Linked DNA regions of Homo sapiens. The protein of the gene in region 1 interacts with the protein of each later gene in a biochemical or structural test. Each region holds a gene or a part of one and is shown in the gene's direction. Other genes may lie near its edges. The genes, in order: MAP2K4, MAP3K1, MAP3K5 and MAP3K4.

What was found.
Region 2: of the proteins of MAP2K4 (region 1) and MAP3K1, one has a biochemical effect on the other in vitro, tested with the Homo sapiens proteins (7 studies listed by BioGRID and IntAct, with this or other methods).
Region 3: of the proteins of MAP2K4 (region 1) and MAP3K5, one has a biochemical effect on the other in vitro, tested with the Homo sapiens proteins (3 studies listed by BioGRID).
Region 4: the proteins of MAP2K4 (region 1) and MAP3K4 form a complex in vitro, tested with the Homo sapiens proteins (2 studies listed by BioGRID, with this or other methods).

What each region holds. Positions count from the first base shown.
Region 1 is NC_000017.11:12,107,852-12,114,878, forward strand, and holds part of MAP2K4 (dual specificity mitogen-activated protein kinase kinase 4), read left to right. Parts: coding exon 1-58; intron 59-2,523; coding exon 2,524-2,575; intron 2,576-5,381; coding exon 5,382-5,509; intron 5,510-7,027. UniProt on the Homo sapiens protein: Dual specificity protein kinase which acts as an essential component of the MAP kinase signal transduction pathway. Essential component of the stress-activated protein kinase/c-Jun N-terminal kinase (SAP/JNK) signaling pathway.
Region 2 is NC_000005.10:56,888,542-56,895,568, forward strand, and holds part of MAP3K1 (mitogen-activated protein kinase kinase kinase 1), read left to right. Parts: intron 1-4,989; coding exon 4,990-5,139; 3' UTR 5,140-7,027. UniProt on the Homo sapiens protein: Component of a protein kinase signal transduction cascade. Activates the ERK and JNK kinase pathways by phosphorylation of MAP2K1 and MAP2K4. May phosphorylate the MAPK8/JNK1 kinase.
Region 3 is NC_000006.12:136,691,467-136,698,493, reverse strand, and holds part of MAP3K5 (mitogen-activated protein kinase kinase kinase 5), read left to right. Parts: coding exon 1-5; intron 6-1,106; coding exon 1,107-1,275; intron 1,276-2,436; coding exon 2,437-2,543; intron 2,544-4,183; coding exon 4,184-4,354; intron 4,355-7,027. UniProt on the Homo sapiens protein: Serine/threonine kinase which acts as an essential component of the MAP kinase signal transduction pathway. Plays an important role in the cascades of cellular responses evoked by changes in the environment.
Region 4 is NC_000006.12:160,987,495-160,994,769, forward strand, and holds the start of MAP3K4 (mitogen-activated protein kinase kinase kinase 4), read left to right. Parts: upstream 1-4,274; 5' UTR 4,275-4,437; coding exon 4,438-4,589; exon of another isoform or gene 4,590-4,848; intron 4,849-7,275. UniProt on the Homo sapiens protein: Component of a protein kinase signal transduction cascade. Activates the CSBP2, P38 and JNK MAPK pathways, but not the ERK pathway. Specifically phosphorylates and activates MAP2K4 and MAP2K6.

The sequences.
Region 1 (7,027 bases):
ATATAGTGTATTAGATGATGTTATTCCAGAAGAAATTTTAGGCAAAATCACTTTAGCAGTAAGTACCTGGTCTTTAAATTATTCATTGTGTATATAGTTATATAGAGATGCTGCTGGAGTTTTGAATGCACATATTTGAGTGTCACTCACAGTACCTTCCTGAAAATAATTCATAGTTAATAACCAGAGACAAAGTCACTTCTGTGGGGTAGTTAACACAATAGGTCATAATGGTCTCGATAAATACTGCCAATGTTCTTTCCCTTTGAATCTCAATGAGTCATAACAGACTGTTCTGTAAATAAAGCTAGGAAAAGCAATTTTCTGTTCATTTTTTCCTGTTGCTTTAACTATTTTTAAATAGGTTATATTACCACAGTTATCCTGAAATTAATCAGAATCACAGCAGTCTCCTTGAAGCCCCATAATTGAAGCCCTTGGACAAAGTTTGTTTACTGTGATTTAAGATTTTGGTTACTCCATAATTGAAGCCCTTGGACAAAGTATGTTTACTGTGATTTAAGATTTTGGTTATTCAGTCTAAACTATTTAAAATTTTGACTAGCAGTTTCAGGGGCCAGTGTTACTACTAAATTTGGTTAACTCACTTTTACCAGAGTACCAAAAAAGAAAATAGCTACTTTTTTACATATGTGTTTATAGTTTTGAAAGTGAATTGATCACTTTGTTTCTTGCTCTGAATCTTAATTTTTTTTCCTAAAGGAAAAAGATAATTTACTTTTTATAGAGCAAAATTCATAAGATTCTTAGAAACTCCTGAGAATCTGAGCTAATGGCATGTTCTAGGTTAGTTGATATATAAACTAAATCATACAGGAAATTGTAAAATAGATACTTTGGTTGCATGTAATTTCCTAGCTCTTCCTTACCTGCATACTCCCCCTCCAATGTAGTTCACCAAGATATATACTCTTTCAAATAATTTCATAAAAAGATTTTATGAAATCATTTTATTTTTAAATTTTATAAAAATAATTGTATAAAAAGAAGCTAACTTAGACTAGAAACTTATTATTTAGCGGGGTATATGAAATTTTACAATGATTAGTTTAGCCATCTCTCTCTAATATATTAAACCCGTGTTATCTTGAAACTTACTATTTGTAATAATTATAATAATAGAAAAATGATAATAGCTAATGGTTATTAAATGCTTATTTGCATCAAACTATTTGTGACATTAAATCTTCATAGTAACTCTCTGTGGTAAATAGTGTTACCTCATTTTTATGAATGATAAATCTGAAGCATAGACAGATTAAATAATTAATATGCTTTGAAGTGTGTAAGTGGTAAATAATCTAAATCCAGGCAGCCTGATCCCAGAACCCTGCTCTTAACCGCTGTATAACAGGGTGACCATGAAATTAGAAAACAGAAAATTATTTTATCATATATTGCAATATAAAGAATATATACTGTAAAAAATGATTTATTCCATATTTGCCTAAGTCAAGACTTGGTGATCACTTTATATATATTAAGCACACATGTAAAATACTTTGTATTTAGTCTCTTCTTGCTAATTAATAAACCAGCAAACAAGCATAGCTATTCACAACAAATTTATGTGTTCTACATTTCTTGTACCTAGCAGCTTGACGTCAGCAAAGACGTCACCTTACAGCAAATAGTTGGCCTGTTGTTTAGTTCTCTTTTAGTTTGAGGTTGTGTCTCTTTTCCTTCCCTTCCTGAAGAAATGTGTAATTTTCTGATCATGATCAGTGACCAGGCAACAGGATAAATTCCCACAGTGGTGAACAGAGTTTACACTAGCTCTTCAAACATCACCTTGAAGGCTTAGCATCCAATGAGGGTGGATGATGATGAGGAACTGAGAGTTTAGAAAACTTTTTTATTTACTACTGGACTTAGAAATTGAAATCGATTTTGCTGCAAGTTATTACTCTTAGTTGAAATGGAACCAACTCAGTGATCATTGTTGTCCTGTTTTTATTTTTGAACATTTTAGAGGCCAGGCACAATGGTTCATGCCTGTAATCCCAGCAGTTTGAGAGGCCGAGGCAGAAGGATCGCTTGAGCCCAGGAATTTGAGATCAGCTTGGGCAACATAGTGAGAACCCTGTCCATACTAAAGATGTAAAAAGTTAGCCAGGCATGCATCTGTAGTCCCAGCTACTTGGCAGGCTGTGGTGGGAGCGAGACCCAGTCTCAAAATAAAAAGGGAAAAAAAAAAAGGAAATTTTAGGTTGGAGATAGGAAAAAAGATAAAATTTTAAATGAATTATTAAACAAATTATAAGTCTAAGTTACTGGGTTTTTTGTTTGTTTGAGCTATCAGGGAACAGCATATAAAGGCAACTAAGCTTTTAGATCTAAAATTATTCAGTATCTTTGGTTAACAAGAAATGACAAAATATTGAAATATTAAGCTTAAAATGTATGCAGAGGACTACACGGGATATTACTTGTGATAAACTGTTGTGCTGTTTGAATAAAAAGAAACAAGTTGTTTATCCCATCTCTCCTTTTTCTCCCTAGACTGTGAAAGCACTAAACCACTTAAAAGAAAACTTGAAAATTATTCACAGAGGTGGGTATGGATTGGTATTTTTTGTAATAGAAATTAACTTTTTTCTCCTAATTGGTGAAACGGTTATTGAAAATTACAGTGTCACTGTATAAACTTTCCTAAAATATTTGTATTTTTAGCAAAAAATGCTTTATGTACTTTAAAACTCTATTACTGCTATTTTTTTCTTTGGGATTCAATAAATTTCAGTCTATCTTAGTATGTTGGACTTAGAAACTGAAATAGATTTTGCTGCACATTGTTATTAGTTGAAAAATAATTATTCATTTGCCTGATAGATAATGTTTTTCTGCATACAAATAAGGCATCGAGGTGGTCCTGTGGACATTCAAAGAAGAATCTGAGGGATAGTACCCTCAAGCATTTTAAAGGCATGCTATCCCTGTCTGTTGTTTCTTCTTCACATTAGAGGATGTTTCTAAATTGAGAGAAATCTTTTAATTAGTATTATAAGTTGAAATTTCTCTAAAGCATGTTGTATTTGTGTAAACAGTGATCTTGCCTTTATTAGATACATATTCAAATGAAGCATTTGATGTAGTTGAAGGCCAGACCTAGAAAAGTAGTAACCCTGTGGGAATCCTGAATTTAATCTGGCAAATAGATGAAGTGCTTGCTTTACTTATTACTGTGCTAGACTCAGGGTAATGAGGTGCTGGCTTTGAGGAAACACACCGAATCACTACCCCTCAGCAAATTTGTAACGGAAAAACCTGACAGTAAGTGGCAGTGTGTGATTTAGCCTGACAGTAAATAGGAAGGAAAGTAAAGGGTCAAAATGAAGAGAAGTGAAAAATTTCTAATTCTGGGAGACAATTTCTAGTGGTTAAAGAAATTAGTAATTGGGCCATTTATTTAAGTTCTTTTGTTTGTGGTTGACACTAGGCCACTGAAATTAGTGAACCTTGAACATCAGTAAATTTTATTTAATTTTGTTTGGCTTAATGCTTGTTAGAAATAATATCTTTTTTTCTTTTGGCCTAAAATTATGTAGAGTTAGGTCCCTAAACAAAATTCTTTGTTTCTCTTGTATTTCTTCTTGTTCTTGTCTTGATTTTTTTTTTTTTCCCTTCTTTGTTAGCTGTGTTCTATAATTATGAGAGTAGCACCTTTGAGGCATTTGATAGTTACCTTAGGGATATTTACTGATCACAGTAAAGCACCAAGGTACTGCCTGGGGAGTAGTTGAATAAAATAAAAAAACTTCAGAAGTAACTTTTATTGTTCTCTTACTAAATGAAGTGATGAGTTTATAGCCATCTTTTATCAGTTAGGATCAGTTAGCTTTTTTGTTGGAGTCAGTGCTTTTGATTACAAGTAATAGAAAATCCTGATAACTCTCTTTAAACTTCAGGGAAATTCATTATCTGTCATAATTAGTCCAAAGATGGGGTGGCTCAAAGCACAATATGCTCCTCTTCCTTCTGTCCTCCTTCATGTGTTAACTCTGTCCTCAGGGTAGTAACAACTAGAGCAGTTCCCACTATCATGTCTATATGTGGCTGCCTCGTGAAGAAGAGGTGCTCTCGTGCTGTGCAGCTCTGTAGGGAGTATGGAAACTTTTCCCACGTCTCTAATACCTTTTCTTGGCTCATTCACCAGAAGTGCCTCATGCCCTTAAACCAGCTACTATCAAGAAGCATGAGACTACCCTTATAAAACTTATACCAGCCAACAGCCAGGTTTTCGAGGTGTGGATGTTGATGAGAAGAGATACTTCAATAAAACACAGGTTCTGTTAGAAAGTATGGATGGGGCTGGGTGTGGTGGCTGACACCTGTAATCCCAGCACTTTGGAGACCAAGGCAGCTGGATCACTTGAGGTCAGAAGTTCGAGACCAGCCTAGCCAACATGGTGAAACCCCATCTCTACTAAAAATACAAAAATTAGCCAGGTGTGGTGGCGCATGCCTGTAATCCCAGCTACTTGGGAGGCTGAAGCAGAAGAATCGATTGAACTTGGGAGGCGGAGGTTGCAGTGAGTGGGGATTGCACCACTGCATTCCAGCCTGGGTAAAAAAGAGCGAGACTCTTGTCTCAAAAAAAAAAAAAAAAAAAAGCATGGATGGTTAGGAATGGATGTTTGATAGGCCCACAGCTGTTTCGGTCATGGTAAGAGATCTTTACTGAATTTTTTTGTGGATCACCTTCTGAGTTACATTTAGATGTTTTCTGCATCCTATATTTTAAAACCTTATTTTTTATTCATTGAGCCAGGATAGTGACAAGGACATGGATAAAAGGACTGAGCTATGGATAGAGAATTAGTTGGCACATACTGGTAGTGACTTGATTGTCAATGAGAAAGGGATTTGACATTCCTTATATTTTGACTGTTATGTAATGAATCTGGACTAAGTAAATGAATTTGTAAGCCTCTTGAAAACAATTTAATGCCTAAATTTCTTGTGAAAATTTTTTTTGATATTCAGTTTTTAAGCACTGGCATTCAGAAAATTGTTTTCCTTTCTCATTTTCAATAGAAGAAAACCATTGTTTTTTCTGTGTTTTATAAATATGAAGATGTTAAGAGAAAAATCAATCCCCATCTATATCTTACAGATTAATGTTTGTGAAATGACTTTTGCTGTTACATTTACACAATTATAGTTATTAAAGCTACATGTTTAAAACATGAATAATTATTGTATGTGATAAATGAAGATGTTTTACTTCTTATATATCTGAATTTAAGGACTTGACCACTTATGTTGTCTAAGGTTTTTCAATATTTTTGCTTAAAGTGAAGCCTTATGTAACTTAGGAAGAAGCTAATTGTATACTGAATGATATCTATGTCTTGCAGATATCAAACCTTCCAATATTCTTCTGGACAGAAGTGGAAATATTAAGCTCTGTGACTTCGGCATCAGTGGACAGCTTGTGGACTCTATTGCCAAGACAAGAGATGCTGGCTGTAGGCCATACATGGCAGTAAGTGTTAAGTCCAGGCCTTCTTGCTTGATAGTCATTGCACAGAGAGCCTGTGCTCTTTTGTGCTGGCCATTAGTCATACGGTTTTACCATGAAACTGCTAGAATATTTCCCTTACCCTAAGGCCCAAGCTCAGGTCCTAGCCTCTCCATGAAACTTTGCTAAATTATCCCAGTCAGCTCCTGTTTTCATTGTCTTGCTTTATTTCTCTTACTTGGTATTTAGCAGTTGTGGTCTTCTCTGATTATTGTTTTTTCATTATATTGAACTCAACTCATTAAACAGATGGTAACTTCTCAGAAAGTTCCCACCGTCCCTTAGTGAGACAAATGGGAAGCCTTGAGTTCATTAGCAGAATTCACTATGTATTACAGAGTCTGAAGCTGCATATTTTGAATATTGTTAGTCCTTTTTTTTAGGGGTAGATGAAGCACACCAACAAATGCAAAGGTAGAGGCCTTCAGTATTTTGCAACCTGGAGCCTCTTTTCCTGCAAAGAGACAGATGTACACTATCCATCCATAGATATCAAACTCATCTTACCCCAGTATATTTGCATACAGTGTTCCTACAGCCTGGATTTTGATCTGTATTTGAATGAAAATGTAGTGTCTGTATTTCAGACATTTCCCTAGGTGTTAATGTCTTTCTTCAATGTTGCCATGGTTCTTTGGGGACCAGCACACTACTAAATGTGACACATAAGGTTTTGTGGTTGTTTCTTGAGGCCTCCCTGCCAGCAGCATTTCTTTCCATCTTTGTAGACTGTTTTAAACTAAAGATAAGCTTAGAATTGAATAAAATTGTTCTTTCTTGGTTTCCTCCTTGATATATATGTTTTCAAACCTAGTGCTATAAATAATAAAAAAGTAAGAGTCACAGGCTAGATATTATAGGTGTTCTAGATTATTTATGAATGGATAGGCTTAGTGCTACTACAAATTCAACTTACTGCATTTTTCAATCCTCTTTTGGTTTTGTTATATCTTCCCATATCACTTTTTCTTCAGATGAACATGTAAAAGCGGTGTGTGTGTGTGTGTGTGTGTGTGTGTGTAGACACCTAACCTGTGTGGTAAGACCTTTTAAACTTTTGGTTTTGTGGATGTTGACTGGCTGGGCAGATTTCTTGACTCAGTTTGGAAGATCATTTGTTTATCGTGATAACTAGGGATAAATGGCACAATAGTTTCAAAGGCAAGAAATAAAAAAAATTAGACATGGAGTATTTGGGAAATGTGATTTACATATTTATTAAGGATACCCCGAGAATGAACTGAAATTGTTATTTACAGTTTTAGGGCTTGTCTCGATACTAACAGTGACTAAATGTTTTTGTTGTGTGACACTGACTAAGAATTATATTTGATTGAAGCAGGCTTTGAAAATGCAATTGCAGCCCAGATAAAGTAGAATATTTTGAATTCAGCTTTCTAAGAAAGACTCAGACTTTCTTTAAAACAGACTTTCGTCATTCTTGTGCAGAGATATGCTTTGCAGGCCCAGGAGATGTAAGAC
Region 2 (7,027 bases), on another chromosome or scaffold:
ATTTGGTAAAAACCATACTTTGAATTTTGATTTTTGTCTGAGCTAGCAATATGTGCTATGATACACTGGTGATGCTAGGCAGTGGCAGCGAGTCACAGCTCCCAGTCAGCCACACAATCACGAGAGTGAACAACCAATACTCTATAGTGGACTGTGTTGTCAGATGATTTTGCGGAACAGTAGGCTAATGTAGGTATTATAAGCACATTCAAGGTAGGCCAGACTAAGCTATAATGTTTGGCAGGTTAGGTGTATTAACTGCATTTTCAACTTAAAAAAATATCATCAACTTAAAAGGGGTTTATCACGACATAACCTCAGCGTAAGTTGAAGAGCATCTGTGTATGTGTGTATTTCCAGGAGTTGATATTGTCAATGGTGTTGTCAATGTTAGTGACATACATAGTCACTTCTTGTTATTTGAGGTAGTTATGCTCTGTTAAGTTGCTACAAATATTGAATTAGCAAATACTAAAACACTGCTTCTAGAAGAAATATGTAGTGTGTTTATATGTATATGTATGTGTGTATATATATCCATCCATCACTTTAAAAACGTGAAATTCATGCATTTTACATAATTCAAAAATCTTAAAATCTAATTTACCATTTTCTTTTGTTCGTTTGTTTTTTGTTTTTGTTTTTGAGACAGAGTCTCGCTGCAGTGCCCAGGCTGGAGTGCAGTGGCACGATCTCAGCTCACTATAGCCTCCGCTTCCCAGGTTCAGGCAGTTCTCCTGCCTCAGCCTCCCAGGTAGCTGAGACTACAGGCACGCGCCACCATGCCCAGCTAATTTTTGTATTTTTAGTAGAGATGGAGTTTCACCATATTGGCCAGGCTGGTCTCGAACTCCTGACCTCAAGCCCACCTCAGCCTCCCAAAGTACTGGGATTACAGGCGTGAGCCACCACTCCTGGCCTAATTTACTATTTTGTATATTTTAAAAATTCACACCCAAGTCAGTTCAGTCCTGTCTGCCTTTCCTACTTTTTTATAACTCACAAATCCATTCTCTCCTTTTCCACCATAGAATAAGTAATGGTTGATATTCTTAGCTTTTCAGTAGATGTGATGGTTGAAATCATGGGCTTTGGAGTCACACTGACCTAGTTTTAAACCCTGGCTCTACCCCTTAATGGCCATGTAATCATAGGAAAATTATTTTTTGTGTCTACCCTCCATTTTCTCACATGTAAAATTGGTGCAAGAACCCCATGAAGCATGTACTTCGTGGGATTACTATGAAGATAAACAAAATTATACCTAGGCCTTAGTCAAGCACTCAGCCCACACAGTCAGCTCCACCTGCCATAACCTCCTCCAGTGCTCCCCACACTTATTATATAACCTCCTCAGTCACCTCTCTGACAATACCTGTTTTGTATTATCACCTCATTTCCTCTATTCTTTCAGACGTCCCATGTCCGTTCTCTACGTGGTTCAAATTCTTATTCTCTTTAAGGCCCCCATTTTGTGCTTCTCCTGCTTGGGCACCCCCTTTTTACTCATTCCAGATTCTCATAGCATTTTAGTACATACTTGTTTCTGACACTTTGTTTCTTGTTTGCTAGTTATGTTCCTATCTTGCTGCCTCTTTCAAACTAATTCTCCTTGAGGTCCATTCATGTCTGATTCATTTTCTTCTTCCCAGAGTCTTATACAGAAGTTGCTCAATAAATACTCATGGCTAGGATCAATTTGAAAGTTTGATGTTATTTTAAGAGTTTTGATGAGACCCTGGAAACAATTGTAAATAATTTTCAAATTGGCACAGTTCATATTTTAACAGATTTCATTGCATTCTCCTTCCTAGGTAGAGTTTAAAGAGAATTGTACTGTAACATTTTCAGTTTCCTTAATTTGGAGTAAATACTTTGAGGTTTTTGGAAGCACCCCAAAGCTTTCTCAAACACTTCCATACCCTGTTTATGGTAGTATAAATTGCCATAGCACGTTTTTTTAGAGAGTGATTTGGCAATATCTGCCAGAATTTTTAATGCACTTATTCTTTGACTCAGCTATGCCCATTGTTAGGAATTTACTCAAGATTACCTCTAGAAGTACCAAGTGCCAAGTTCAGGATTATTCACTCTACTCAAGAAAGTAATTAAATTATCCACACTATACAGAAATTAAACGAGTATGAAGCTGTTGGTGTTGATTTACAAAGTGCTACAAGATACATTAATAAGTGAAAAGAGCAAGGTATATAAAGTGATCCTGGCCAAGCACAGTGGCTCATGCCTGTAATCCCAGCACTTTGGGAGGCTGAGGCAAGAACAAAACTTGAACCCAGGAGTTGGAGAGCAGCCTGGGCATAGCGAGACCCCATCTCTACCAAAAAAAAAAAAAAATTAGCTGGGCATAGTGAGACGCACCTGTGCTCCAGGGTACTCAGGAGGTTGAGGTGGGAGGATCGCTTGAGCCCAGGAGGTCAAAGCTGCAGTGAGCCATGTTCATATCACTGCACTTCAGCCTGGGTGACAGTGAGAGCGAGACCCTGTCTCTAAATTAAGTTTTCTCTTTTGTAGACATTTTAGAAAATCTTAAGTCTGTGAATATATTGGCCTTTTTTCCTCCACAAAACACACACAGACACACACACACCCCCCCCCCCCACACACACACACACAAATCATCAGTAAGTTACATTTGGGGAAAAGAAGGAAGAGGGACTTTTTTTGTTTTGTATTTTTCCTTTTTGTGGTGTGTAAGATGTGTATATATCAGCTGAGTATATCATGATACAGGATCACAGACCTTAGAGGATTTTTCTTTATATTACTTTGCATTTTTTAACCCAAAGCATTTATGAAATTACTGGGGTAGGGAAAAGAGAGTTTTCTTGTGATTAGGAGTGGATAGGTGAGTTTAAAGTATTCAGACTTGATATTAGCCCTTTGTCAGATGAGTAGATTGCAAAAATTTTCTCCCATTCTGTAGGTTGCCTGTTCACTCTGATGGTAGTTTCTTTTGCTCTGCAGAAGCGCTTTAGTTTAATTAGATCCCATTTGTCAATTTTGGCTTTTGTTGCCATTGCTTTTGGTGTTTTAGACATGAAGTCCTTGCCCATGCCTATGTCCTGAATGGTATTGCCTAGGTTTTCTTCTAGGGTTTTTATGGTTTTAGGTCTAACATTTAAGTCTTTAATCCATCTTGAATTTTTTTATAAGGTGTAAGGAAGGGATCCAGTTTCAGCTTTCTACATATGGCTAGCCAGTTTTCCCAGAACCATTTCTTAAATAGGGAATCATTTCCCCATTTCTTGTTTTTGTCAGGTTTGTCAAAGATCAGATGGTTGTAGATGTGTGGGATTATTTCTGAGGGCCCTATTCTGTTCCATTGGTCTATATCTCTGTTTTGGCACCAGTACCATGCTGTTTTGGTTACTGTAGCCTTGTAGTATAGTTTGAAGTCAGGTAGCATGATGCCTCCAGCTTTGTTCTTTTGGCTTAGGATTGACTTGGCAATGTGGGCTCTTTTTTGGTTCCATATGAACTTAAGTAGTTTTTTCCAATTCTGTGAAGAAAGTCATTGGTAGCTTGATGGGGACGGCATTGAATCTATGAATTACCTTGGGCAGTATGGCCATTTTCACGATATCGATTCTTCCTATCCATGAGCATGGAATGTTCTTCCATTTGTTTGTGTCCTCTTTTATTTCATTGAGCACTGGTTTGTAGTTCTTGAAGAGGTCCTTCACATCCCTTGTAAGTTGGATTCCTAGGTATTTTATTCTCTTTGAAGCAATTGTGAATGGGAGTTCACTCATGATTTGGCTGTTTGTCTGTTATTGGTGTATAAGAATGCTTGTGATTTTTGCACATTGATTTTGTATCCTGAGACTTTGCTGAAGTTGCTTATCAGCTTAATGAAACTGAAGAATGCTAAAGACAAGAAGGAACCAAAGAGAAAAGACAAATTACAAGAAAAAAAATTGATAACAATTATATGGATAACAGAATACAGCAGCAACAAGAGAATTCAAAAGACAAATTGTACCTTCTAGTGATTGAAATAAAATAACAGTTAACCTAGGATTTCATAGCTAGCTAAATGATCATCAAAAAATAAGAATGAAATAGAGATATTTTCAGACACATGAGAATTGTGGAAGTTTACCTTCAGCAGACACTCACTGAAAAAAATTATTTTTAGGAATGCATTTCAAGAAGAAGAAAATTGATACCACAAATAGGGAGATATGCAAGAAAGACACTATCTCTGCCTGGAGTCAGCTCTGATTCATAATGGGTGCTCAAAAATTGTTAGAAAACTAATACTTTTTTTTATATATGACTTGAAATTAAAATATGGTTATTGCAGCACAAATTTTAGAATGTAAAGAGTGTATCACAATTTAAAAATAATTATCAGATTTTGAATTTTTTTAGAAAAACTACAAATAAGACCAAATAAAATTTCTTTTTTTTTAAAAAAAAAGTATTCAGACTTACAATTTGTTTATAAAAAAGTTATTCTTCATAGTGTATTTGATACTAAGAATCAGAATTTGTCCAACACGGAAGGAAAAAAACAATGCAGTTGTGTTTTCTATGTATTAAATTGACTCTTCAGTTTTAGTCTTTCTTAATCTAAATAGCTCTGTATGCTGAAGAAATAGAAAACGTGCAGTAAGAACAAACCATCTCGGAGATTGAATATGAGGACAGCAGAATTCATTTGAGTGAATACTTTATCTACCTGAACATTTTGATGTACTTAGCCTTGTTGATGTAAATAATAAGGAATAGGATATATTTGATCAAATCCTAAAATCCTAAAATTTGAAAGATTGTTAGAGAAAACCTCCCATCCAGTGGATGAATTTTTTCATAGACTTTTTGATAGCAGAAAATCCTCCCACTTCTGCTTCAGTTCCTCTCTGTTCAGGATGTAAATGTAAGGGTTATGAGGTCTATGCACATGTGTTTCTGTATCAGAAGTTACAGTTGTGCAAAGCTTCAACACTGGCTTTTTCTCCACAGATTGCTAGTGCAACTACTGCTCCATCGATCCCTTCACATTTGTCTCCTGGTTTACGAGATGTGGCTCTTCGTTGTTTAGAACTTCAACCTCAGGACAGACCTCCATCAAGAGAGCTACTGAAGCATCCAGTCTTTCGTACTACATGGTAGCCAATTATGCAGATCAACTACAGTAGAAACAGGATGCTCAACAAGAGAAAAAAAACTTGTGGGGAACCACATTGATATTCTACTGGCCATGATGCCACTGAACAGCTATGAACGAGGCCAGTGGGGAACCCTTACCTAAGTATGTGATTGACAAATCATGATCTGTACCTAAGCTCAGTATGCAAAAGCCCAAACTAGTGCAGAAACTGTAAACTGTGCCTTTCAAAGAACTGGCCCTAGGTGAACAGGAAAACAATGAAGTTTGCATGACTAAATTGCAGAAGCATAATTTTATTTTTTTGGAGCACTTTTTCAGCAATATTAGCGGCTGAGGGGCTCAGGATCTATTTTAATATTTCAATTATTCTTCCATTTCATATAGTGATCACAAGCAGGGGGTTCTGCAATTCCGTTCAAATTTTTTGTCACTGGCTATAAAATCAGTATCTGCCTCTTTTAGGTCAGAGTATGCTATGAGTAGCAATACATACATATATTTTTAAAAGTTGATACTTCTTTATGACCCACAGTTGACCTTTATTTTCTTAAATACCAGGGCAGTTGTGGCTCATTGTGCATTTTACTGTTGGCCCATTCATTTCGTTTTTGGAAATTATGGTTTTGTATTTTCATGTTTATTTACATTCATTTTTGTTTATTCAGGGAAAGCTGATCTTTTTTTCAAACCAGAAAAAAAAAATGAACTAGATATGAAGTAGAGTTCATTAAATATCTTGCTATTGTCAGAGTTTTTAAAATATAGACTTAATTTTGTTTTTTTAAATTGGAATACAATAAAGTACTACCTACATTTGAGTCAGTCACCACTCTTATTGTGCAGGTTAAGTACAAGTTAACTAAAAATAAACTGTCCTCTCTGGTGCAACTCACAACCAAGATCAAGATTACCTTAAAATTTATTTGAATTTTTTAGATGTTTTGGTTGTCAAACTGTAGGAAACTTCACAACATTTAAGTCTTACTCTGTATGTAACAATCCATCATTCACCTTCACTACTGGTAGTAACATAGAGCTGCCATTTTCCTTTTACCATGCATCATCTCTTTACAGTAGGCCTGGCAGATCATTTTTTAAAAAGATTATTCAACTACCAATCAGTAATGTTTTTAAACAGTACATTTGCTTTGAACTTGGAAAATGTGTTCAGAAAGAAAAATGGAATTGAATTTCATTTATACACTAATTCCTTGGATTTTGCACAGTTACCTAACGGTTTTAGTCTGGAGTTAAATTCAGATGCATGGAATCCTGAAGGAAAATGGTAGCTTTTTAATCTTTTTGTGTGTGTGTGAGTCTTTTAAATCAAGTACTGATTAACTATTAAGTACAACTTTGAGATTTTAGTTTTAACTCTTCAGAAGCCAGTGTGAAATAGAATTGGTTATTCTCAAAGACTCAGGATAAACTAAATAAGCTATATATAGAGTACATTTAAAATGTACAACACAAATTGGAAATAAAATAAGTTACAAGATAAGTTTACAGGGATATATTGCTTACAATTTTTAAAAGGCAGTTTGTTTTTTATGTGAATATGTTTCTTAGTGAAATTTTACATTCCTTTGTTTTGGAAGATTGGCGATATTTGAAGAGTTAAAAATAGTACAGAAATGTGAAGTTTGGTATCTCTAAATGTGTTGTACTTGACTTTCTTTTTTATTTTGTTTTTTTTTTTTTTTGACTACTTAGAATTTTCACAATTCTAATAAGATTGTTTCCAAGTCTCTCATGTGCAAGCTTTAAAGGATGCACTCTTGCCATTTTATGTACTGGAAGATCATTGGTCAGATGAATACTGTGTCTGACAAAAATGTAAACTGTATAAACTGAGGAACCTCAGCTAATCAGTATTACTTTGTAGATCAC
Region 3 (7,027 bases), on another chromosome or scaffold:
TCTAGGTAAAGTTTAATTAATAATGCCATTTGGTGATGACAATAAAGTGTTATTCTACATCTTTATTTGTGCATGATATCAGGTGCTCCTGAGATATCAGTATACAGCTAAGAACTAGGGGGAAAATGTTTATTATCCTCCAAGTAGATAAAATAGATGCCACATAATACATTTTATTCACAGAACAGCAACTTGAAATCAGCAAAAAATTAAAAAGTCTACTAACCGCTTTATAGTGATGGTAGAACTAAAAATATATACAAAGCAAGTACAGAAACAATACCAGGATAAATGTCCAGGGACTTCTAGTGTAAGGGCAAGAACAATTCAACTTTAATTAACTCTTAACTCTAATTGTTCTTTCAGTGAAGAACAATTATTTATGTTAATAAATGATAGGCTGAGTCAGGAAGTTAAGGTTATATTATGTTCAAATCATAGGTACATCACGGCCAGTGCCGTGGCTCATGCCTGTAATCCCAGCATTTTGGGAGGCCGAGGTGGGCAGATCACTTGAGATCAGGAGTTCGAGACCAGCCTGGCCAACATGCCGAAACCCTGTCTCTACCAAAAATACAAAAATTAGCCAGGTGTGGTGGTGCACACCTGTAATCCCAGCTACTCACAAGGCTGAGGCAAGAGAATTGCTTGAACCCAGGAGATGGAGGTTGCAGTGAGCCAAGATCATGCCAGTATACTCTAGTCTGGGCAACAGAGTGAGACTCTGTCTCAAAAACAAAAACAACAAACAAACAAAAAATCATAGGTACATCTAATTTATTTAGAACAATTTGTACTGGAAACAGTAAAATGGAAAACAAAGTTTTGGCATTTTAAGTGGTTTTTTGCAGGAAAATTTATTAATATGGAGTACCTTTACCTTTAATTCTTTCTGAAGGCAGAGTAATAAAAGAAATACATTGGCTTCTAAATTTCTTAATAATGCCAGATATGTAAGATATTTATTTAGGCATCTGAATGAACTGAAAACTACAAATGCTTTATAGCTAATGCTGCAATATCATTCATGTCTTTATTAAAATTATTGCTTTTCATTGAAATTGTTTCTAATGTCAAACTCTTTGAAATGTGTGTGTTTTTACCAGCCAGTACTTCCGGGAATCTATACTCAATGACATCAGGAAAGCTCGTAATTTATACACTGGTAAAGAATTGGCAGCTGAGTTGGCAAGAATTCGGCAGCGAGTAGATAATATCGAAGTCTTGACAGCAGATATTGTCATAAATCTGTTACTTTCCTACAGAGATATCCAGGTGAGAAGATGTTTAAAGTGAAATCTTTGTTGTGTAGCATGTTGGAGGGATAAGGGAGTATTAACCTCAAATTTCAGTTTGCTGGTAAGCAGTTCATGTTACTACACGTAATTTTTTATTGACTCTCTTAAGCTTTCCATCCTATAATTTTATGATGAATGAAAAAGACTCATGTGAGTTAACCATCAGTGATTGTGAAAGACTTGTATGGTAAAGGCCTGACTTTTTCCTCCAAAAGAACAAAAAGAAAAATCTGCTGGCACAGCGAACCTGTGGACACAGTCTATTCTACTGTTAGCCTCAGGCACACCTGTCAGTGAAAGCTTTGTTTTGGCAAATAGCAGACATTTTTAGAGCTTTCTGGACATACCTTTTATCCCTTGAAATTGTATTGCTTGAAATTGATAGTGCTGAATCTAACTCGCCTGAAGGAAAAAATATGTAATTGATTACCTACAGAAATAACTTTAAAAATATGTAATGTAAAACACACTAACAGGTTATATCATTTTTATTGACATGTCTTAAAATTTTAAAAATAGGGTAAGTGGAATAAAATCCTCTCCAAGTTAGGGATTTGCTCTTAGGTTTTAATAGTAAAATTTAAATGACATCTGGTTTCTCCTTTCCATTCCTAGCCTTTCAGGTCTGTGTAAAGGCTTCATGTGCTCAAGACAGACTCACATCCATGGAGGGCTGTGGCACATAGGATCCTGTGGCTAGAGTGCTTACTCATGTGACATGAAACTGTGTTGCTACTTGTAACAGAAGTTCAACCCATTGCCTCATGTCCTTGACATTTTTATTTCCCTGAAATTGTTAGAACACTGCATACCGGGAATCTGGCTCTATGGGGAAATAAATCACCCATATTTAGACAGTAGAGCACTATCATGCTTGGTGTTTTTGTTTCTTTTGCTTTTTTAGTTTTTGTTCAACATGGTAACTGTATGTTTCTAATGTTTTTATATATACGATCTAAACCTTTTAGAAGAAAAACAACAAAAACTGTTTATTCTAGGTTCTTCAAAGTGTTCTGTGGATTCTAGTGTCTTTTTAATGTGTTTCTTGAATTCAGATATCTGGTTGTCAAAAGACACGTTATTGTGAGAATTTTCTCCTAATGGTTTAATTCTGTGCTATTCTCATCTAATTTGAAAGGACTATGATTCTATTGTGAAGCTGGTAGAGACTTTAGAAAAACTGCCAACCTTTGATTTGGCCTCCCATCACCATGTGAAGTTTCATTATGCATTTGCACTGAATAGGTAAGAAGAAAAAGTTCCCTTCCAGAATGCGTTAACATATTATTGTGTAACCTGCAATTCTTTACAGAGAATGTGTTCACTGCAGCATTGCAAGAAGTCCCTATTAAAATGTAATATTAGCATATCTGCTTCAGCCCCATGAAATATAGGAAGCATGCATTCTCATTTTTTTCTGATTTATTTTTCAGTAAAAAAAAAGTCGCACACTGTTGGTATATTTAAATTCTTACAGGTTTTCTGCTCTGTCAAAGTTTGTATTTGCTATTCATATTTTTTAGAATTGTAAAAGTTACATGAATATGATGTTATCTTTAAGCAAATACACTCAACACCAGATGGTCATTCACACAAAAGTTTTCACTAGAGTAAGGATGGTTATGTCTAGGTGAACATAGTGTTAGATAGTTATTACCAAGGATAAAAAGGAATTTCTTGGACAGAAGATTTGAAGTAGTAATTGAGAATAGAAATGATACCTTTTTTATAATAGCTTTATTGAAACATATTTCACAGGCTGGGCGTGGTGGCTCACTCCTGCAATCCTAGCACTTTGAGAGGCCAAGGTGGTCGGATTGCCTGAGCTCAGGAGTTCGAGAGCAGCCTGGGCAACACGGTGAAACCCCGTCTCTACTAAAATACAAAAAAATTAGCCAGGTGTGGCAGTGTGCACCTGTAGTTCCGGCTACTCGGGAGGCTGAGGCAGGAGAATCGCTTGAACCTGGGAGGCAGAAGTTGCAGTGAGCCAAGATCATGCCACTGCCCTCCAGCCTGGGCAACAGAGCAAGACTCTGTCTCCAAACAAACAAACTAAATATATTTCATCAAAACAATAAATTTTAAAACATTTTCATCACTCCACAAGGAAACCCTGTACCCATTAGCAGCCCCCCTTCCATTTCCCTCCCAAATCCCCCAACTCTAGGCAACCACGAATCTACTTTCAGTCTTTACAGATTTGCCTATTCTGGACATTTCATATAAATGGAATCATACAGTATGTGGTCCCTTGTGACTGACCTCTTTCACTTAGCATAATATTTTCAAGGTCTAAGGAATGATAACTCTTATAGAATTTTTATCTGGTTTTGTGAACTGTCTACACATACTATTTTAAAGCATGCTACATAAAGCAACTTCCTTAGATAATCAGTTAGTCACACGTAGAAATCAAGCAGTTCTTGGGTTTGATTTGATTTTTGGTATCATCTGTGAATGAGTTTGCTAAGTTTTGGAGCAAAAGCCATTGAAACCTAAGGTCAGGGTTTTGTCCCTACTTGGCTTTATTTACTCTACCCTATTCAAAGACACAGACTACAACTCTAATCTCGTTTCACCAACTTGAACCTGCATATAGGCTGCAGGGAAATTGGAAGGATTGTGGATGAGTAAGTACAAATCCATCACCATTATTAACACAGAAACTCAAAAGAAATCCTTGTTAGACCTAGTAGACATACAATGGGATAAAACAAAAAATTAGGCTTAGGACAGAGGTTTACAGAGGACTCTCAAAATCTAATTGTTTCTGTCCTGGCAAATTTCTCTAATATGAATCAACATGTTAAATAGGGTTTTTAAAAAAGAATTGATCTATATTGCTTCTGTAATGTATATTGAAACAACAATGTTTTCTGCCTTAGGAGAAATCTCCCTGGTGACAGAGCAAAAGCTCTTGATATTATGATTCCCATGGTGCAAAGCGAAGGACAAGTTGCTTCAGATATGTATTGCCTAGTTGGTCGAATCTACAAAGATATGTTTTTGGACTCTAATTTCACGGACACTGAAAGCAGAGACCATGGAGCTTCTTGGTAAGTAAATAGTATATAAATGAGCTACTTACTTAGTAAATCCATGGCATAAAAAAGTATTTGCAAATGAGAGTGTTAAAGTATTATTATAATCCATAAGATTGTGTATTATGAACTAAACCTTAGATTTTATTTTATTTTATTTTATTTTTGAGATGGAGTCTTGTTCTGTTGCCCAGGCTGGAGTGCAGTCATGTGATCTTAGCTCACTGCAACCTCTGCCTCCCAGGTTCAAGCGATTCTCCTGCCTCAGCCTCTCCAGTAACTGGGATTACAGGTGCCCGCCACCACGCCCACTAATTTTTACATTTTTAGGAGAGACGGGTTTTGCCCTGTTGGCCAGGCTGGTCTTGAATTCCTGACCTCAGGTGATCCAACTGCCTCTGCCTCCTCAAGTGCTGGGATTACAGGCGTGAGCCACCGGGCCAATCTTAGAGTTTATAACTTTAGTAAATAATTTGATGAAATTCATTTAACATAGTATAGTAAATTGGGATAAATAGATGAAAAGATAATTTAAGAAATATAATTTTAAAAAGATATTTTAAATAAGTAATATAAATAATAAAATATAATTTTGTAGAAAAATTTATATAAAGACAGTTTAAAAGACCTGAATGAAAGGAAAAAATATACCGAGTTTGTAGATGAGAAGGCTTGATATTTTAAAGATTTTAATTCCCCCCAGCAGGGGTTTTCATGTGATTTGACAAACCAATTCCAAAATTTATTTGAAAGAATAAAGGACTGAGAATAGGCAAAGCAATTCTGGAAAAGCACAAGGTGGAAGGACTTGCTCCACCAGTTAACAAGACTCATTATAAAGCTGTAATGATTAAGATATTGCAGTATGGCTATAGGCATAGACAAACAAAGCACTGGAATACAAGAGACAGCCTGGAACAGACTAAGATATACATGAGTCTAGATTTATGGCAGAATCAGCTTCATGAGCTGTAAAGGAAAGGATGGAATCTGTAGTAATGATACTGGGAAAATTTCTTTATCTGCTTGGAAAAATAAAATAAAGTTCTATCCCCATTTTAAGCCATGCACAAAAAAATGAAATCTAAGTGAGTTAAATACCAAAATATGAAAAAATACTTTAGAAAAATATTTTTAGAATAAAGTGTACAAATTATGTATGACTATTGGATAAGCAAAGATTTCTTTCTTTTTTTTTTGAGACAAGGTCTTGCTCCGTCACTCAGGCTGTAGTGTAGTGGTGCAATCTCGGCCCACTGCCACCTCCACCTCCTGAGCTCAAGTGATCTTCCCACCTCAGCCTCCTGAGTAGCTGGGACCACAGGTGTGTGCCACCACGCCTGGCTAATTGTTTGTATTTTTGGTAGAGAGAGGGTTTCACCATGTTGCCCTGACTGGGGCAAAGATTTCTTAAACAAGGCTTAAAAACGCCATATACCATAAAAGATAAGACTGGGAAAATGGTCTACATGAAAATTGGCTTCTGCTCATCAAAGTAGTAGCTTTTGGAAACAGCAGAGTAGATTCTATTGTGCTTATCTTCCTGTTGATAACAATTATAAATGTTGGAAAAAAGTTGGAAAGCACTGAAGAGTGATTAAAAGTAGCTAGAAACTGGAAAGGTTTTCATCCTTGGATGAAGGGCACCGCATAGGATAAACTCCACATTTAAATGGCTTTTCCCTCAAGACATTCCCTGGTCTGCAGGGAGCAGGACAGATAGAACTCTAGCAGGAAATCACAGTCTTATTGGCCTGAGAGTGAGTTTGAGGCTGCCGGAGGACCTGGACATTGAGTGGGATAAGCCTTTGTGTGAACAAGGTGAACCACCAATAATTTATTTACCTTTTATTAAAAAACTACATACTCTTAAGAGGAGGAGAACAAATCCAAACTCTCTACAGCTTATCATCCAAAATGTCTAATACACCATAAAAATTACTAAGCAACCTGGGTGTGGTGGCATGTTCCCATTGTTCCAGCTACTCAGGAGGCTGAGGTGCGAAGATGGCTTGAGCCTAGGAGTTCAAGACCTGCCTGGACAATATAAAAATACCTTGTCTTATTAAAAAAAAGAAAAAAAGAAAAAAAAGAAAGAAAAACTCTCAACTACTAAAGTGGTGAAGAAATAGGAAAGTGTGATTCATAATTAAGAAAAAAATTATTCATAGAAATAAACCCATAGATAAAACAGAGTTTAGAATTACCAGACAAGGACATAAAAATAACAATGATAATTATATCAAAGAATCTACTTGAAAAGATGAACATAATGGGTGAAAATATGAGGAATTATAGGAGATATTTGGAAACTGGAAATAACCAAATGGGAGTTCTAGAACTGAAAAGTACAATATCTGAAGTTGAAATGTCATCAAATCAGATTAACAGCAGATAGGACACAATACGATAAAAGAGCAATAAACTTCAAAACAGATTATTAGAAATCATTGAAATTGAAGCAGAGGAAAGAAAGAGATGAAGTCATTAATAATTCCAATGACCTGTGGCATTTAGTGGTCTAAATACTTTTTTTTTTTTTTTTGAGACGAATCTTGCTCTGTTGCCCAGGCTGGAGTTCAGTGGTGCAATCTCACCTCACTGCAACCTCTGCCTCCGGGGTTCAAGCGATTCTCGTGCCTCAACCTCCCAAGTAGCTGGGATTACAGGCATGCCCCACCATGCCCA
Region 4 (7,275 bases), on another chromosome or scaffold:
CCTTTCCCTTTATTTGTTTCAATCATTTGGGTAATTCCCACTATTCTAATTATTTTTTGAAAGCATGCAATCTTTAATTCTTTATCTACTGATTTGGAGCCCCTGGGGGTTCAATTTAGATTCTTCATGCAGAGGAGAATGTCTGCAATAAGGGGTGATTTATGTCATGGTGGAGAAATAACAAAAACAGGCAAATCACCTCTCAGCAAATAAACAGTGGAGGTTTTCTCCAACTTCCTACTACTCAGCCAAGAAGGATGAGATTTAAGGTTATAAGGACTATTTAAAAAGTGTGTAACTACTATTCACAATAGCAAAGACACAGAATCAATCTAATGCCAATCAGTGGTAGACTGGATAAGGAAAATGAGGTACATATACACTATGTAATACTATGCAGACGTAAAAGAACAAGATCATGTCCTTTGCAGCAACATGGATGGAGCTGGAGACCATTATCCTTAGCAAACTAATGCAGGAACAGAAAATCAAACATCCATGTTCTCATTTATAAGTGGGAGCAAAATGATAAGAACACATGGACACACACACAGGGCCTATTGGAAGGTGGAGGGTGGGAGGAGGGAGAGGATCAGGAAAAATAGCTAATGGGTACTGGCTTAATCCCTTGGTGTTGAAATAATCTGTACAGCAAACCCCCATGACACAAGTTTACCTATATAACAAACCTGCAGATGTACACCTAATCTTAAAAGTAAATTTTAAAAAAGTTTACTATCTTTTGTACATATCCAGTATTTCTTTGGTGTTTTACCAGTAGATAGAAATAGATGCCACTGTATCATTATGAAACAAAAAATCAATGTGTGTCGTGCTTAGTTTAGGTCCTCTCCAATGGATGTGAGGTTTTTATTGCTCTCTTTCACTGGGTCTGCCTTTCTCTGCGTGTGCTGGAGTGAAAATTAATCAGCCCCTCTGGTCGTGAGCAGATTGCATGTTTGTGCTGCCTGTCTTTCTGCCTCTGCGGAGCTGTAGAGGAGCCACCAGAGAGCAGAGGGCCAGAACTGCTGAAGTTTTTGTCTGAATGTTCACACCGGAATCTGGTCGGGGGGAACTGAGAAACCAGAACAGGAATGAAGAAATGTGGGCTCTCCTGGTTTTAACTCCCTGCACTTCCAGAAGGAAATGAAGGGGTGTGCTCCCTCAGGAATACCACAAGGAAGGGAGGAACTTATTTTAAGTAAAATGCAGCACCACGCTAATAATAATTTTAAAAACTATAGCCTTAGAGGTTTTTCTTTTTAATAGCAGACATAACCCTATTTATCACATCACTTATTTTATTGAGACCATCCTGGCTAACATGGTGAAACCCTGTGTCTACTAAAAAATACAAAAAGCCAGGTGTGGTGGCAGGTGCCTGTAATCTCAGCTACTCAGGAGGCTGAGGCAGGAGAATCGCTTGAACCTGGGAGGCAGAGGTTGCAGTGAGCTGAGATCACGCCACTGCACTCCAGCCTGGGCAACAGAGCAAGACTCCATCTCAAAATAAAAAAATTTTTTTTAAATAATCCTGTGGCAAAATCCATAAAATTGACTAATATACTAGCCTTGAAATATGCTAAGGTGTTACAATTATGCCCTTTACATTTATGTACATATATATATATACACACTATATAGAGAGGAAATTTGAGACTTCATAATAGTGGTAGCATATGTCCAAGGTTTTTGAGTGTTTTTGGCAAAGCAGAAAGAACATGCATATGAATATGTAACTGGTTTTGTGTATGTCAAAAATGGGCTTTAAACTCATGGTAAGCAATGTTCTGAATGTTACGTAGCTCAACCTAGACTAGGTCTTCAGTAGAACCTTAGCTTTTTAAACTCATTTCAAAGTAAAGAAATTCCATAAGGGCTATGTGGATTCGGTCTTGAGGACAAAGAGTGAAAGGTAATTCTCTGAAGATTTTGTTGTCATTGTTTTTAACATGATTAGGCTGGGTGCAGTGGCTTACACCTATAATCCCAGGGTTCTGGGAGACTTGAGGCCAGGAGTTCAAGACTAGCTTGGGCAACATAGTGAGGCCTCAGCTCTACCAAAAAAAAAAAAAAAATGTTTAAAATTAGCTGGACATGGTGGTATGCATCTGTAGTCCCAGCTACAGCAGAGGCTGAGGTGGGAGGATCACTTGAGCCCAGGAAGACCCTGTCTCCAAAATAAAAAAAGAACATTATTAAAGGTAATGAGACAATGAGACCAACCATGTGCTAAACAAGAATAAAAATTTAGAGACAAAAATCTAATAACTTAAAAAAAATAACTATTTCATTAATGCAACAATACTTACTGAGTTCTACTAACACCATGTTGGGCACCAGAGACATTTGATCCCTAGGCAAAGGTCAGAAGAAGGAAGAACAGCTTCTTTCCTGAAGGAGCTTACACTATGGTGGAGAAGGCAGAAAAGAAATCTGGGGGCTGTGAGGCGCTCACTGGGAGCCCTGAAGACAAAGTGGGGGCACGGGGTGAGATGAGAGGGTTGTCAGCCAGAGAAACAGCTTTCCTGGACCCAGCATGGGGGTGGGGCGAAAAGTCACAACACTTATATTGAATATTTAGTACCAGTTAACTTAGGTTTCTATACATGATGCATTACTTGATTAGGTAAGTGTAAATTTACTTGGTTCCTGCTAAAATACATAGTATCCTCAAGTGGAAATTAAAACACAAGAACAAGCCACAGGTCTCCCGCATGCTGATTATATTTGCTAAGTGTTTTGTGACTTGGACACACGTGTCTGCATTATCAGCTAGCTTAAATTCGGTAGTCATACCAAAGAATACGTAGTACAATGCTGTTTAAAGAAGAGATTTATTTTATTATTTAACTTTTAAAGTCTCTAATATGCCTTCTAAGAAGGGTTCTGGCTCAGAAAATTGCAGAAGAAAATCGAGTAGAGAACTAGAATTACAGAAACCTAAGAAATACTTTTACTGAGCTTTCTTCACACAAGAAAATGCACGGAAATGAATTATACATGGATACCAATTTGTGATTTTTAAAAATTTGTAATTTTTTAAATTAAGATAAAAATTAGTTTATTTTTTTGAATACTTTTTTGTTTTGTTTTACCTCACCCTTTACTAAGCTGTTAGCTTGGTCTGTTGCGCTTACTGCTATATCCTCAGCATCTAGTACAGTTCCTGACACATATATGCACTTAATAAGTATTTGTCAAATGAATATTATTGAGTAAATAAGATGAAGGTCAATTCAGAAATTCAGCACTATCAGGCTATATACATAATACAGACTATTATAAAAAACTAGAATGGAGCAGTTCCTTTTAACGACGGAGAAATGTCAGTAACATACTTTGAGCACAATATAGCTAATTTCACAACTGGTCTTTAAATATAACATACCTATAATCAATTTAATGTTTTTCTTTGTTACCAGAGTTGTTCAAAACGTGCGTTTCACCTATCAAAGCTCAACTAAATGAGGTTTAAGAAATCTGCACATTTGAATGTACTTAATTTTAAAAGATTCTGGTTTTGGATTAACTCTGGATTTCACCCTATGGGAAATTTTGTAAATATTTCCAACTTAAAAAAAAACTGTGAAGCCCCAGCGCTAAGAGTAAACGATGCATTGGAATTTCAACAGGATTTCTGTAACTCTGAAATAATCTTTAGCATTTCTTCTTCCCCCCATCCCCTCAGTGTAGGAGCATTCCAGTCCAAGTTTCTGGGAGATCGCTATCGAATCTTATGACACTGGGGTGAGAAGTTTTGCCGGGTTGAAATGAGGGGGTCACTTTAATAATCTGGAATTCCGGAGACTTTATGTCAAGTCTTAAAAATTCGAGCCTGTGGAAGGCTGCGCTGTCAAGAGACCGGAGTTGCGAGCGTCTGGGTGACGTCCGTCCTCCTGGAAGGTGGGATCCGGGTGGCAGGTCCCTGGGCGGCGACTCCGGCCGGGCTCATAGCGTCGCGCCCGCCCCGCTCATCGGCCCTACCCAGCGTCCCTCCCAGACCGACGACCGCCTGGGAAGCCTCGAGCTCCCAGCCCGCTGCACAGCCCGGCTCCGCTCCACAGTCCCCCACTGCCACCGGCCGGGGCGACACCGGGCGAGCTGGCGAGACCCGGCTCCAGGACCGAATCGCGCCGACACTTGACGGCGCTCCCCGCCCCTCCCTGCCGCCGTCTCCGCCCCCGTCCGGTCGCATTCCGGCGCCCGCCGCCGCCGCCGCCACCGCCGCCGATCTGGGAGGCTTGTCCCTCGCCGCCCACCGTAGCCCCGGCGCTCGGCCGGTCGCCGTTTCCAAGATGGCCGCGGCGCGCACGGCTCCTGCGGCGGGGTAGAGGCGGAGGCGGAGTCGAGTCACTCCCGCACTTCGGGGCTCCGGTGCCCCGCGCCAGGCTGCAGCTTACTGCCCGCCGCGGCCATGCGGGGCTCCGTGCACGGATGAGAGAAGCCGCTGCCGCGCTGGTCCCTCCTCCCGCCTTTGCCGTCACGCCTGCCGCCGCCATGGAGGAGCCGCCGCCACCGCCGCCGCCGCCACCACCGCCACCGGAACCCGAGACCGAGTCAGAACCCGAGTGCTGCTTGGCGGCGAGGTGAGTGTGGCGGCCGCAGTCGGTCGCTCGCAGAAAGCGGGGCGGGTCCTGGCCCGAACTCGGTCGGGCCCGAGGGCCTCTGCTTCCCGCCAGGTGGGGAGGGAAGCATCCAGTCTCTGCAGGCTGGGGCGGGAGGGGCGCGGTGCATCCCTGGGTCCCAGGGGACCGCGTCTGAGTCTGTCCGGCGACTCCTCCCGGGGTTGCAGCTCCGCAGGGTTCCGCTCGAGCGTGTTGCCGGCTCCCCTTCCCTTGTAGACTCCCCCAGCTCACCCTCAACGTTGCGGGGGCTGGGAGCAGAGTGCGGCTGCCTCCCCTGCCGCTAGCTTCGGAAGAGTGGCCTCACTGAAGTGCCTCTCATCATTACTGAACGAAAGTGGTCCCTCCCCTCTGCCCTCATTCGAGTAAAAGAGACATTCGGAAATCGAGTGCGTACTGGCTATTTCCCCGCGTTCTCCTCCTCCTCTCCTTTTGCCCGCTCCAGAGAATGCCTGTCATCTCTTCCGTGAGAAATTGCACTTAGACTATGCAGACAGATACGTTGCTTTCCTGTTCTGAGGGCCCCTTACTGTCCTTTAGTGCTAGTATTGTGCAGATTGTTGCTCACACGTGCACAAAAGTAAGGATTCATTTGTCTAAAACTTTGCTACTGCAGGAAGCTCTAAGGTGGAACTTCGGTAACCAAAGCATTTGTTGCTTTTTCTTCCATACTCTATTAACTTATTTTTATGTCTTTATTTTTTTTTTAATTGAGAGAACAAACTCACCATAACTGAGAATTTCCCTCTTTTTACGTGCCTATGTTTGTATGTTCAAATGTCCTCTTACTCCCTGTCCTTTGCATCCCAGAGTAAACTTGCAAACTGCTGCCCCCTGTCCCCTGTAATGAAAATACCTCGGCAGCTCCTCTTGGCATCTTATGGTCTTGCTCTATGGTTCTAGGAATAAGGCAGTAAAGTGTCCTCTTTTTCCTGCTTAAAGAAAATTCACACCTGTAACTGTAGTTAGAACTGAACACAGGAGCCATATTCTTGCTTGTCATCATTCAGTTGGCCCAAACAAATTTGTTTTATTTTTATAAGCTGTGAAGAAATTAGTTGCCTCTTTTAATTCTGAGATAGTTCTGGGTACTTCTAAGGAACAACTTCTCTGAATAATGGTACAGGGTGTAATGAGAATTCCTTTGGTTCCTTTTGAATACATCTAGTATTTTTAGAAATTTTGTCAGAAAGTTTATTATAAATTTGTTAACGGATCAGTTTTCGAGCAATTTTGATACCTTTTTCTTTAAAATTAATAGTGAACACTTAACGGTTAAAATAGGCCATTGTCTTTATTTCTATTAACCCATTTAATCTTTTCAACAACTCTATGAGGTAGGTCCTGTTATACTCTCTTTTTGACAGATGAGGAAACTGAGGCACACAGTTTAAGTATCTTGTCCAGGGTTTCACAGCTGGTAATGAAGAAAGGTCTGGCTGCACAGCCCATGTCTTTAACCACCATGAAGAATTCATTATCCAAATGGGCGGATCAGAAATTAGAATTCTGTATAACCCTACTCCGGAAAGAAATGGACATGAGCATTCTTAGGTAAAAGCGAGAAGGGCAGAGAAATGAAAATGTGCTGCAAAAATGACTGCTGCTTCAGTGGTAAAAAAAAAAAAAAACTTGACTTTTCAGTCAGGCTTCTGTCTGTGTTATAATAAAAATAGGTCAGGATAATGGGTTTCATCCAACTGTAAGTGAACAGCAGTGTACGGAACAAGAAGATCTCAATATTTTTCTTAGCAACATTGCAGTTAATTTTACAATAGAAAAATCTGTAAAACAGATTACTTGACAAAGCTGTTGTTTTCTCTTTTTTATGTCCTCGTTGTCACCACCTGCTCTTCAATACATAGAACTGACCTCTGACAGAATTACTGTAGATCTTTGGTAAAAGATGTAGGGGGTCTATCCAGTTGTTCATTTGAACTTTTTTTTTTAACCATTTTAGAGGAGCTCAGTGTACGTGTTCAAAATGTGTGAAATGCCACCTCTTTTTTTTTTTTACAATTTTCTTTTTTATTTTATTTTCAATAGTTTTTGGGGTACAGGTGTTTTTTGGTTACATGGATAAGTTCTGTAGTGGTGATTTCTAAGATTTTGGTGCACCTGTCACCCAAGCAATGTACACTGTACCAAATATGTAGTCTATTCCTCACCCCGCTCTGAGCCTTCCCCCGAGTCTTCAAAGTCCATTATATCATTCTTACGCCTTTGCATCCTCCTAGCTTAGCTCTCACTTATAAGTGAATACGATGTTTGGTTTTCCATTCCTGAGTGACTTCACTTAGAGTAATGGCCTCCAGCTCCATCCAAGTTGCTGCAGTTGCCATTATTTCGTTGTTTCATGGCTGAGTAGTAGTCCATGGTGTATATATGCCACATTTTCTTTATCCACTCATTGGTTGATGGGCATTTAGGTTGGTTCCATATTTTTGCAGTTGTGAATTGCGAATTGCTGCTATAAACGTGTGTACATGTGTCTTTTTCATATGATTAGTTGTTTTCCTTTGGGTAGATACTCAGTAGTGGGATTGCTGGATCAAATGGTAGTTCTACTTTTAGTTTTTAGGTTTTTTTAGTTTTTTTTGAGACAGAGTCTTTCTCTGTTGCCCAGGCTGGAGTGCAGTGGCGTGATCTC